Homo sapiens: one gene and its partners. The protein of the gene in region 2 interacts with the protein of the main gene of each other region in a pairwise test. Each region holds a gene or a part of one and is shown on either strand. Other genes may lie near its edges.

Region 1 (3,757 bases), on a different chromosome or scaffold from region 2:
TATCTAGGGTACATCTCAGTCACACACACTCAACCTCTGAAAATGCCCAACCACCAAGACAGTACTTACAGTCCAATTTTCCTCCCTTGGCTTCTGCACGAGGTTGCCTGGTTGCTGCAGTGCCTGCTTTTCTCCCTGTGTCGCCTCTGCTGCCTCCTGAATAACAGTCTCAGGTTTGTCTGTGGCTTCTGTGGGGAGCCAGGATGCCCGGACAGAGTGGGCCACCCAAATCGGGTGGGACACCTCTGCCCTCTCGGCTGGAGTCCCACTCCATGCAGGCACAGAGATCCCAGACAGGCCCCCAGGTTTGTGAGAAACACAGATTCACCTGTCCAAACCCAAAGAATGGACTTGGAGACACAAACAATGGAAGCGAGACTTTTAATGGTGGTCTTGCAAGATGGAGTGTCTGGTAGGCAGGCACACCCGGGGCAGTTACAGCAGGTAATTTATTTCCTAGCATCCAAATCTCACTGCAACCTCCACCCCGCCTGGTTCAAGCGATTCTCCTGCCTCAGCCTCCCAAGTAGCTGGGATTACAGGCGTGCATCACCACGCCCAGCTACTTTTTTTGTATTTTTAGTAGAGACAGGGTTTCACCATGTTGGCCAGGCTGGTCTCAAACTCCTGACCTCAGGGTCCACCCACCTCAGCCTCCTAAAGTGCTGGGATTACAGGTGTGAGCCACCGCGCCCAGCCTAAATACAGTTTGTTTGTTTTTTTAAGTAGGCCACTGCCTCCACCTTTGTACAGAGAAATCCCAGGTTCCTCCTGTCAGAACCTAGCTAGACCCTGGAATAAGATACCAAGACCAGGCTTGCCAACTGTGGCTTGGCATAGAGTTTGTGTTTGACCTGGGGTCAGGGCCTTGTCTACACACTTTTTTTTTTTTTTTTTTTTTTTGAGACAAGGCCGTGCTCTGTCATCCAGGCTAGAGTGCAGTGGCTCACTGTAGCCTCAACATTTGCATTACATGTTGATTTATATAATTAATGGATGGTGTTGCTTATTATCGATTGATTGTGAATCTGGCCACGACAAATTTATTCTAATTGTTTATTTTCTCAGATTATTTATGTAAATAGTAATAACTGTAAATAATAATCTATTTCAATTTTTTTCTTCCAGTGATTGTACCTCAGTTCATTTTACTGTCTTATATGTTGGCTTCGTCAGAATGTTTCATATTATGTTGAAAATAGTAATGATATATATAATAGCATTCTTATCTTGTTCCTGATGTATAAAGTAATAGTTCAGAAGTTTCTCCATTAATTATATGTAGGGGTATAGCAGGTAAAAGAAATAAATTTTTATTCCTGGTTTGCCAAGAGCTCTTATCAAAATGTGTTAAATTTTATCACACTGTTTTTATGCTTCTGTTGACCTTTTTTTTCTCTCCTTTAACTTTATGGAATCTTAAGTCATACAAAGTATTTTATTTTTGTGTAGTCAGATTTGTCTATTCTCTCTTTTATAGTTTCTAAATAACCTGTTGTACTTTTTAAAGTACCTTCAAACTCTAGGTTATAGAAATATTTTCCTTTTTTTTTAATACTTGGTTTTAAATCTTTGTAGCATGTATCTTGGTGTGTGGTATGACATGGAGGTGCATCTTCTTTGTGTTACTTCAGATGGATGTTTAATACAATATTGTATTGAGTGCAGTGCTCCTGTAAGTTTTAATATTTGTTTGTAACAATAATAAGGAAGACTAATGGTTTTTTCAAAGTTTACTCAAAAGTAAAAGCACACACGTAAAGAAAAAGAGAATGTAAAGAAAAAGAGAGAATATCTGACGTGGACCAACTTGAGCCTATAGATTTTTTTTATTGGTAAGTCAAAAGCAGGGCCAAGAAAAGAAATTATCCAAATTGAATTTTCTCATTATATTAGTCTGTTTTCATGCTGCTGATAAAGACATACCTAGACTGGGCAATTTACAAAAGAAAGAGGTTTAATTGGACTTACAGTTCCACATGGCTGGGGAGGCCTCACAATCATGGTGGAGGGCAAAGAGGAGCAAATCACATCTCGTGTGGATGGTGGCAGGCAAAGAGAGAATAAGGAAGACACAAAAGCAGAAATCCCTGATAAAACTATCGTATCTTGTGAGGCTTATTCTCAAGAACAGTATGGGGAACCCACCCCCATTATTCAGTTATCTCCCACTGGGTCCCTCCCACAACATGTGGGAATTATGGGAGCACAATTCAAGATGAGATTTGGATGAGGACACAGAGCCAAACCCTATCACTTATTACCCAAGTTTTATCAGACTGGGAAAACAACATTTCAGTCCCTTAAGTAACAATTTTAGAGGGAAGATCTACGGCTAACAGTTATTCATTGTGCACATCAGGATAAACCAGTTAACCAAATTTTGATATGCCTCATTTATTATACACAAAAACAAAAAGGCCTTTTTGTTTTTAGTTAACATTAAACTAGCTTTTATTCCAAAACAAAGAAGTCGGTCCAGTAAAACTATCTTATATTTTGAAGAAAACATATTTAAGAATTGCTTTGGACAACAGAAACTGTTATCTTATGAAACCTAAAAACTTTATTAAATTCTGAATGTAGCATGTGCCTGCCTCCCATTTTTGCCTTGTAAAGAACTCAGTATGCTATTAAATTATTAACTTAGTTTATTTGAAATAGTTCCAAGATATTTCATGCCTCCAAGATTAAAACTAAAACCCAGGTTAGCAGTTTTGAAGAAGAGTGGACATGAGCCTTGAACATTATATATATTTGTTACATCTGATAGAGATATTTTAAATTGTCTGCTAAAAACCCTCTTGCTTTGTAGATGGGAAAACTGAGAGTTCCAGTGGCTATTTACTTGCTCCAGCTTTTATTTCCAGTTCATAGCAGAAGCAGGACTTAAACTTCAGGTCTTTTCGTCTCAATCACATGGTCTTTCTCTTTGCATTGTGTATTTGATAACGTTTTTAAATAAAACAAAGCATTTTGCAACTAGTGAAACTGTACAAAAAGTCATATAATGTGACCAGAAGGGAGATTATTAAAAATTATAATTTCACTTAAGCAAAATGTGTATAACGCCATTTACTGTTTTTCTATGTAGGTGAAAAGAGATTTGAATGCCCGGAATGTTCTAAAAGGTTTATGCGGAGTGATCATCTCTCCAAACATGTCAAAACGCACCAGAATAAAAAAGGTGGTGGGACAGCTCTTGCCATTGTTACCTCGGGAGAACTGGACTCATCTGTTACAGAGGTGCTTGGCTCCCCAAGAATTGTCACAGTTGCAGCCATTTCTCAAGATTCGAATCCAGCAACTCCCAATGTTTCAACCAACATGGAAGAATTCTGAAAAGTTATTTATAACAGAGACCTCTAGTGCTGCACTTGTTTACACACCTTTGAAAATCTGGAAATGGGCTGGTCAAGTGGATTACAGAGTAGGAAATTATGTTTTCATTCTTGGCTTCTTTAAGTATTCCAGGGTTTGGGGTCAACACGTGAAGTGTTGAATTTTAAAAAATACAAAAAGCAGACTGATGTACTGGAAACAGAAAAGTATTTCCTCCATACTATAAGTTGTAGTTGTTTGGAAATATATCACATAACCTTTATACAGAATCTTCCCATCTCTTAATATCATGTGTTAACATGTTTAAAAAGACCTTAGTAGTTTGCAGGCTGGACCTTAATTGGACTTATTTTCTTTGAAAGTACTTTGTTATAAATTCAGTCAGTAATAATTTACGTGTATTCTTTTTCTCTAT
Region 2 (3,107 bases):
GTGGCCTTTTGGCACGCTAGTGATACTGAATGTGTTGTTTAGGGACTGCATTAATCTGCTTTCTCCCTGCATCCCCTCCCCTCCCCTCACACCAGTCTCCCTATATCAAACCCTGAGTGGAGACTGCTTTGAATCACCCATGAAAACCAGAGCCAGGTCAGCCTGGTATTGAGACCAAGAGAAATAATAACCTTTATCACCAAGCCTAGCAGTTCACATTCCCCTGAATCAACAAAATGGCTAAAAGAATAAATGGTAGATTTGATTTTCCCCTACCTTCTCACTTCCTCCTCCTCCTCAATACAGAGCAGTTGATAGAACTTAAATAAGATCAGGGGTCTGCTTTTCAATCCATTCCATTCTCCCACAAGTCAGCCTCAATAATTACATTTATTTCTTAAAATATGTGTATGTAAAGCACTTTTTTTTTGGATGTGCTGTCTTTAAGGGTAGGTGACAAGACTCATTTTCCAACTTGTATCCATATGGAAAAGTGGTTTGGGTCACCCCAAGCAAATGGAAGTAAGCCAATCCAGTTACCTCTAAACACCTTTTATCACAAAGTTTTTATTGAACAAAAATAATATGACAGTAAAAATGATACATAAAGTGAAGATTTGCAGTCATAGAAAAGATGTGTACAAAGAGACCAACATTCAGGTTATATAGTTCTATAAAACTTTTCCCATAGCAGTTTAACACTGATTAAGCAGACATAAAAGGGAAAAGAAAGTCATTAATGTTCTTTGAAACCTATTTTCTGAGTAAAATACCTCTGCTAACACACACATGCACACACACACAGAATGAGGCAGAGCTATATGAGTGAGTTATTCTTCAGTTCCTCCAGTTCTCTGTTTGTGTTACAGGAGTATTTTCATCCATCAAAAAATTGTAGTATTTTTGCATTTCTAATAAATGGATCTAGAGCATACATTAATCCCAGTTTCCAAAGGAAAAGAAAGAATCAGATCTATAGTCATTTAAATATTTCCAATCAGCATTTACGTAAACAAGTATACTAAAAATAGTAGTTTTGGTTGAGATTTTTGCACATTAACTTCCTTTAGTTTGTAAGAATCATGCATTTTGGATGTGTTCTCTTATCTGACAACACAGTTTTAAATGCTGTCTTTATCTGTTTTGTTTGTTTTACTAATAACACGTAGTTTTGAACCAGTAATTACTTAACAGCTAGGCATGGGGGAGACAGAATTGGACTGAGCACCAATCATTGTTCTACCTTCAGTGAGCTGTGCAGCCATAGGCAACTCCCAGCTTCTGCTGTGCACCTGTCTTGAGCTGGAAACAGGTGGCGGGAAGCATTCTCAAAGGCCCCTTCTAGCACTAACTTTGTATGTTCAGTAAATATCAGTTCCCTGGACCAGCTCCTTTTATTCTGGTACAGAATTATTCTTAGCCTATGGGGTGGGGGTGGGGGGACAGTAGTGTCTATTATTTGTGAATTTTGGAACCAGTGTCATTACTTTACAGTCAAGGAGGCATGTTAGAGTGTTTGGATTTTTATCCCTTGATAAGGGCCCACATCCCCACATACAGAGATGCTCAATTCCAATTGAAAAACCTCAGAATTTCTAAGTGTCAAAGCAATAGTCTAGATTTTTTTCTGAAAATTCAAGAAATGTGTTTTCTCAAATCTCTTTTTTTATCCTTTCTCATAATCCTGCCACTTAATGCCCAGTTTGGATCAGTTATTTAGTCACATTTCAAGTTAGTTTTTATCATCACTTATAGTTAAGGATTGTAATTAATCTTGAATTTAAAGCTTGGTGCTTTTCAGTTTTCTTGTATTAGAACTTTCCTTCTTCATGTACAGGTGTGGTACCTTTGGACTGGTGCCTGCTGATTTTCTGATGGAACAGAAAATATGTCTGTATTATCACTGCTCCAAATTACATTACACAACAGAATTTACTGGAGTGTTCCAAGTTATCATCAGTTCAGTTCCACGATGATGAGGTTCCTGTAGAATTTTTCATCTGTCAGATTTCCTTCATTCTCCCCTAACTTTAGTAATACATAAAGCAGTGTATCCTCTCTCAGTTTCCACAAGCAAGGCCTTTAGTACCTCCACTCTCTATTTGTATTACAGCAAGTTTTTGATCCATCAAAAATTGTGAACACCTACCTATACTGATGAAGATACCTAGTGTTAAAAATGGTTTCTTTGTTGTTTGGGTTCATCACCACTCTGTGAGCTTCTTCTAAAGCATTAGATTTTTTAAATGTTAATTATAGTTCCAGGGGAACCCCAACTTACTTATACTGACACAGTAAATATATCAGATGGTCGGGATTCCCTATGGAAAACTGAGAAAACCAGGGCTAATTTTTTGAAATAAGAATATGCTAACCTAGGAGATATTCTTGGGCCTGGAATAGCATGAACTTGATGTAGCTTTTCCATCTCAGATTTTTGTCTGGGAGGCATCTAAAAGATAAGATACTGTAAACAGCTAAGGAGGCTAGCCTTTCAAGGTCCATTCTTTTGAAAATGTACTTTAGAACATTTTCTTTTATCAATGTTTATTGTCTAAATATGGCTTAGTTTATTATAAAAACATTACTTGGACATTTACTGAATTTCAGTTCAAAAGAGGTTCTAAGGCAATTCTTATACAATTGAAAGTAAAACAAAACGTGATATATGCTTTCATATTGCCCACTGGTGAAAAATAATGAAATTCTACTAGAGAGCTGTTTGATACTAATTTTCATCTTTCAAACATTTCCTCTTAATACTAAAAAATATATAAATCATTCATTTACATTAAATGCGAAGGAAGGCACAACTGGTTATAGTCTATATAAGCACACAGTTTAGCATACTCAGAACTAAAGAGAAAAAAGCTTCACATCCTTATTAGTTATACTGAAAACCATTAAGAAAAGTTCTTCACTGTCAACAGTGTTCAACACTTAAGAGCTAAAAGGATATAAAAACAAAAACATTAAAATTCACTTAATGCCAAACAGATTTTCATATATACTTGAATATATCAAAAACAGTTTTTAAAATGCTAACATAAATCTAGACTATCCATGTTATGAAAAGTGCAAACCAAATTAACAAGAGTTTCACAATG
Region 3 (3,757 bases), on a different chromosome or scaffold from region 2:
CATCCTTCCACCTCTGTCAGCTTTTCTGTGGATTTCTCTGTGCATCCCTGTGTGTACCTCTGTAGATGTTTGTCTCTTTCTTTGGATGTCATTGTCCCAAGCTCCCGTCTGCCTTCTACCAGGAGAAGAACAGCCAGCCCCCAAAACCCTGGGGTGTGGGGAAGGGCACTTACCAGCTCAGCAGAGGCCAGCCCCTTCCTGGAAGGCTTAGACCTTGATGACAAACTGTAGTCCGTGGATCAGCATGTCTAAACAAACAAACAAGCAATAAAAAAACAGACGACAGTTATGATCTCAACGTGAAGGAGTCCATATTCCTCAAGGTGGGGGGCCAGGGAATGGAGGCCTCTGGAGATCCGACTGTGTTCAGCATGCTTGGAGGAAGCCAGGCCTCCTTCTACCAACCAGCCCAGCTGTCCTCAGTGTCAGGGCTGAGGCAGGAGACACGGTGTCTATCTCAAAATTATCTGGATTATTCGGGGGAAAATGAAGCCCAAAATAGAGAGAGTTGAGGCCAGAGGGACCTAGTATCCTAGGGTGTGCAGGGAAAAAACTCCTTGGGGGAAGTTGCTGCTCCTGCAGAGAGGGACAGAGGGCTTGAAAGCAGGTACTTACTAACAATGTCATGCACCAGGGTGATGTCCAAGCCTCTGAGAACCTCATTGACCAGAGGGCACACCTGGCCAGGGGCAGAGAGGAGAGTTAGGCAGAGTGGCACCCTGGAGCAGCAGAATCCCTAGTGGGGGTTCTCTGGGGAAATTTCCTGTCATTTTTCTGTGTGAAAGTGATTCTAAGCAATCCCACAGATCAATGGTCACACATGCCTGAGGAGAAACTGGAGGCATGAGGGATGTTGTGAAGGGCCCCAAATCACACAACAAGCCCAGTGTTCACCCTGTGACATCACATCTGATTCTAAGTGGAGTGGAGTGCCCTGGTTATAGGAGACACCCAAGCATAGGTTGAAAGACTGTCTGTGGCCATAGAAGGCTGGACAGGGAACTTCTCCAATTTCTCAGAACAGGGGCCAATCCATTTCAGCTTCAGTGTGGACAAGCAGGGCCTGGCCTAGAGCAGAGACTCATCAATGCATTTGGAAAGATGTAAAGAAGAAACATGGACAGATGGATCAATGGACAAATAGATTGATGAATGGAAGTTACTTATCAAATTGAGGGACTCGGACCCACTTAGCTCAGGGCTTTGTTTTAGTGCAAGAAGCTCTAAAACCTGAGGATCAGGGGATCCCCACCTTGCCTACTTACGTTGCCCTGAACCAACTCAGGCAGGACTTTATTCAAGATCCCTGTGAGGCTGTCCAGAAGACCTTGAATGGGGAGGGGGCCAAGTCTGAAAGAGAAAAGTCATGGGTGATGCAGGGACCTGGAGATGGTGTGGAGAAGTCTCCAGAGGGGGCCACTGTGAACCCCACAGTCTCAACACTCAGTCACTAAAGCCGAGCCTTGTCTATCTACACCCACGTGCAGGCCAACAGCAAGGGTCTTATGTAAAGGGAGTTACATTTGTGTACAGCAGTGAACACACAGGTATGTGTAGGATAAACACATGGTTCTCAGAAAAAGCAGGTGCCAATAAGGCTTTGCAGAGTCCATAAATGAATGGATACTACTTAGTATGTAGTTGTCATTATGATCCAATGAGATGACACATGTGAAGCCCAATGTATGTGTTCATTAAAAGTTAACCACGTGGGCAACTTTTGCGTAATAGGTTTGACACAGTCTCCCCATGTGACAGGTAACTGAAATAAATAACCTAGTTAGGATCCACGTCTATTTTACCCCTTACTGGGACAAAGCACTTTCACACCTGTTATCTTGGTAGGTTCTATCAATAACTCCAGTGCAGTTCCATATTGCAGATAAGTAAGCTTAGAACTAAATTGGAGAAGCACTACCCAGGTTCACACAGGAAGCCCTCTATCCCCATTCCCCTGTAATATGCAGGGCTTAAACTCCAATTTCTTGTTGCTAGATCCAGCATAAAATTGGTTAGCTTGGTCTAAGAAGGAATAAGTACTACTTTATCTATCTATCTATCTATCTATCTATCTATCTATCTATCTATCATCTATCTATCCATCCATCTATCTATTCATCCTTCTCTCCATCAACCCAACCATCTAACCATCTGTCCATCCATCCATCCATCCATCCATCCATCCATCCATCCATCCATCCATCTTTCCACGCTCCCTCCTTCCCATCCATTTTCCCACCCTTTCAGCCTCTCACTCATCTATTCTCTCATTGTCTCAGCTTTCCAATCATCCATCCGGCATCACACCCTGTCATCTCTGGGCAGGATAAGCTGCTCCTCTGGCCTCACCCATCAAGCAGAGAAATTTGCAGGCTTCCAGGGGAATGGGTGCAGTCACCAAGGACCAGGTGGATCCTCTCCTGCTTATCTCTCACAGCTAAGATTTCTGCAGTGATGTCCAGCTTCACAGCCAGCCTCAACAGACTTGCACCGACCAGGGGCCTGCAAAGGAGACAGCCCCACTGGTATCTAGCTCCACCACATTCCAAGGAAGAGGGTTATTTTCTCCTTGCCAAGAATGCTAGCCTCACCTCACTCCATCTTGCCCACAGTTGTACTTATCTCATTTTCTAGCAGGAGAAACAAAGACTTAAGAGGTCAAGTGAGTTTCCCAAGTGACCCAAGGCCACTTAGCATAGCAGCAAATGAGCTGAAGTTGGAGGCTCAGGTCTGTTAGACTCCAATACCCCCGTTATGGTTAACCATGGTCACCAGGGTCTCCCTCGGTGAGCCATCCTCTCACCCCCTCTTGGGACCCACTCACGTATTCACTTGGAGCTTTATGCCGAGAGGGATGGTGACATAGAGACGGTGGCCATCAGGGCTCTGCACAAGGCCAAGTTCCAGCAGCTGGGGGTCAGTGACCTTTATGCTGTCCAGGGAGTAATATTGGAGGGGGAAACATTAGCTCCTCTAGCTCCAAACCCAGAAACCATCTTTAACCTAACAGTACCCATCCCAGAGGTAGAGCTTCCCACCCAGGATAGGGAGATGGGAGGGGAGTCTTGCAGCCTAAGCCACGTGGGTTCTGAGTCACACACTAGGTCTTTTCCAGCCTCTGCCCTGGAACAGATCTGACACACACACAGGGCCCTTTCCTTATCTCCAGTCTATGAGGTATTCAGGACAACAACTGTGTCTGGATTATATCTGCATCCTGTATGCCAGCTAAGAGCCTTACAAAGAAAGTGGCTACTTCATATTAGTTGACTGGATTGATGGGAAGGTGGGTAGTGGATATGTGGGTACATGGATGGAAGAGTAAGTGATTAGGTAGAAGGATGGATAACTGGATGATGGATTGGTCAGTGGATGAATGGATGATGCAGGTGCAACTGGAAGTAAATCTGCACAAACATTTATGGGTAAGAATCACTCACCCTGTCAGGTGGCCAATCACCAATGTTTATCATGGGAATTGAGGAGCAGGAAGTCAGGGAGAGTGCAGAAAGGGTGGAAGGAAGCCATTCTCCCATTGTCCTATCTTTCCAACCATCCATCCATCATCACACCCTGTTGTCTCCAGGAGAAGCCAGGCCTGTGACCGCACCCATCAAGCAGGGAGGCCATTTGATGGGTGAGGCCATTCACTGAGCCAGCCACTGCGCCAGGTGATTTACACCTTTTCCAGTCCTCACAATACACTTTCTCTGTGGGTTCTATAATCTATATTTTACAGATGGAGAAACCAAGCACA

The links.
Region 1: the proteins of ELK3 (region 2) and SP4 interact in binary tests that used the Homo sapiens proteins (3 or more experiments, as listed by UniProt).
Region 3: the proteins of ELK3 (region 2) and BPIFA1 interact in binary tests that used the Homo sapiens proteins (3 or more experiments, as listed by UniProt).

What each region holds. Positions count from the first base shown.
Region 1 is NC_000007.14:21,507,928-21,511,684, forward strand, and holds part of SP4 (transcription factor Sp4), read left to right. Parts: intron 1-3,094; coding exon 3,095-3,342; 3' UTR 3,343-3,757. UniProt on the Homo sapiens protein: Binds to GT and GC boxes promoters elements. Probable transcriptional activator.
Region 2 is NC_000012.12:96,267,265-96,270,371, reverse strand, and holds the end of ELK3 (ETS domain-containing protein Elk-3), read right to left. Parts: 3' UTR 548-3,107; downstream 1-547. UniProt on the Homo sapiens protein: May be a negative regulator of transcription, but can activate transcription when coexpressed with Ras, Src or Mos. Forms a ternary complex with the serum response factor and the ETS and SRF motifs of the Fos serum response element.
Region 3 is NC_000020.11:33,238,978-33,242,734, reverse strand, and holds part of BPIFA1 (BPI fold-containing family A member 1 precursor), read right to left. Parts: intron 2,933-3,757; coding exon 2,825-2,932; intron 2,503-2,824; coding exon 2,350-2,502; intron 1,351-2,349; coding exon 1,266-1,350; intron 680-1,265; coding exon 616-679; intron 249-615; coding exon 208-248; 3' UTR 174-207; exon of another isoform or gene 66-173; intron 1-65.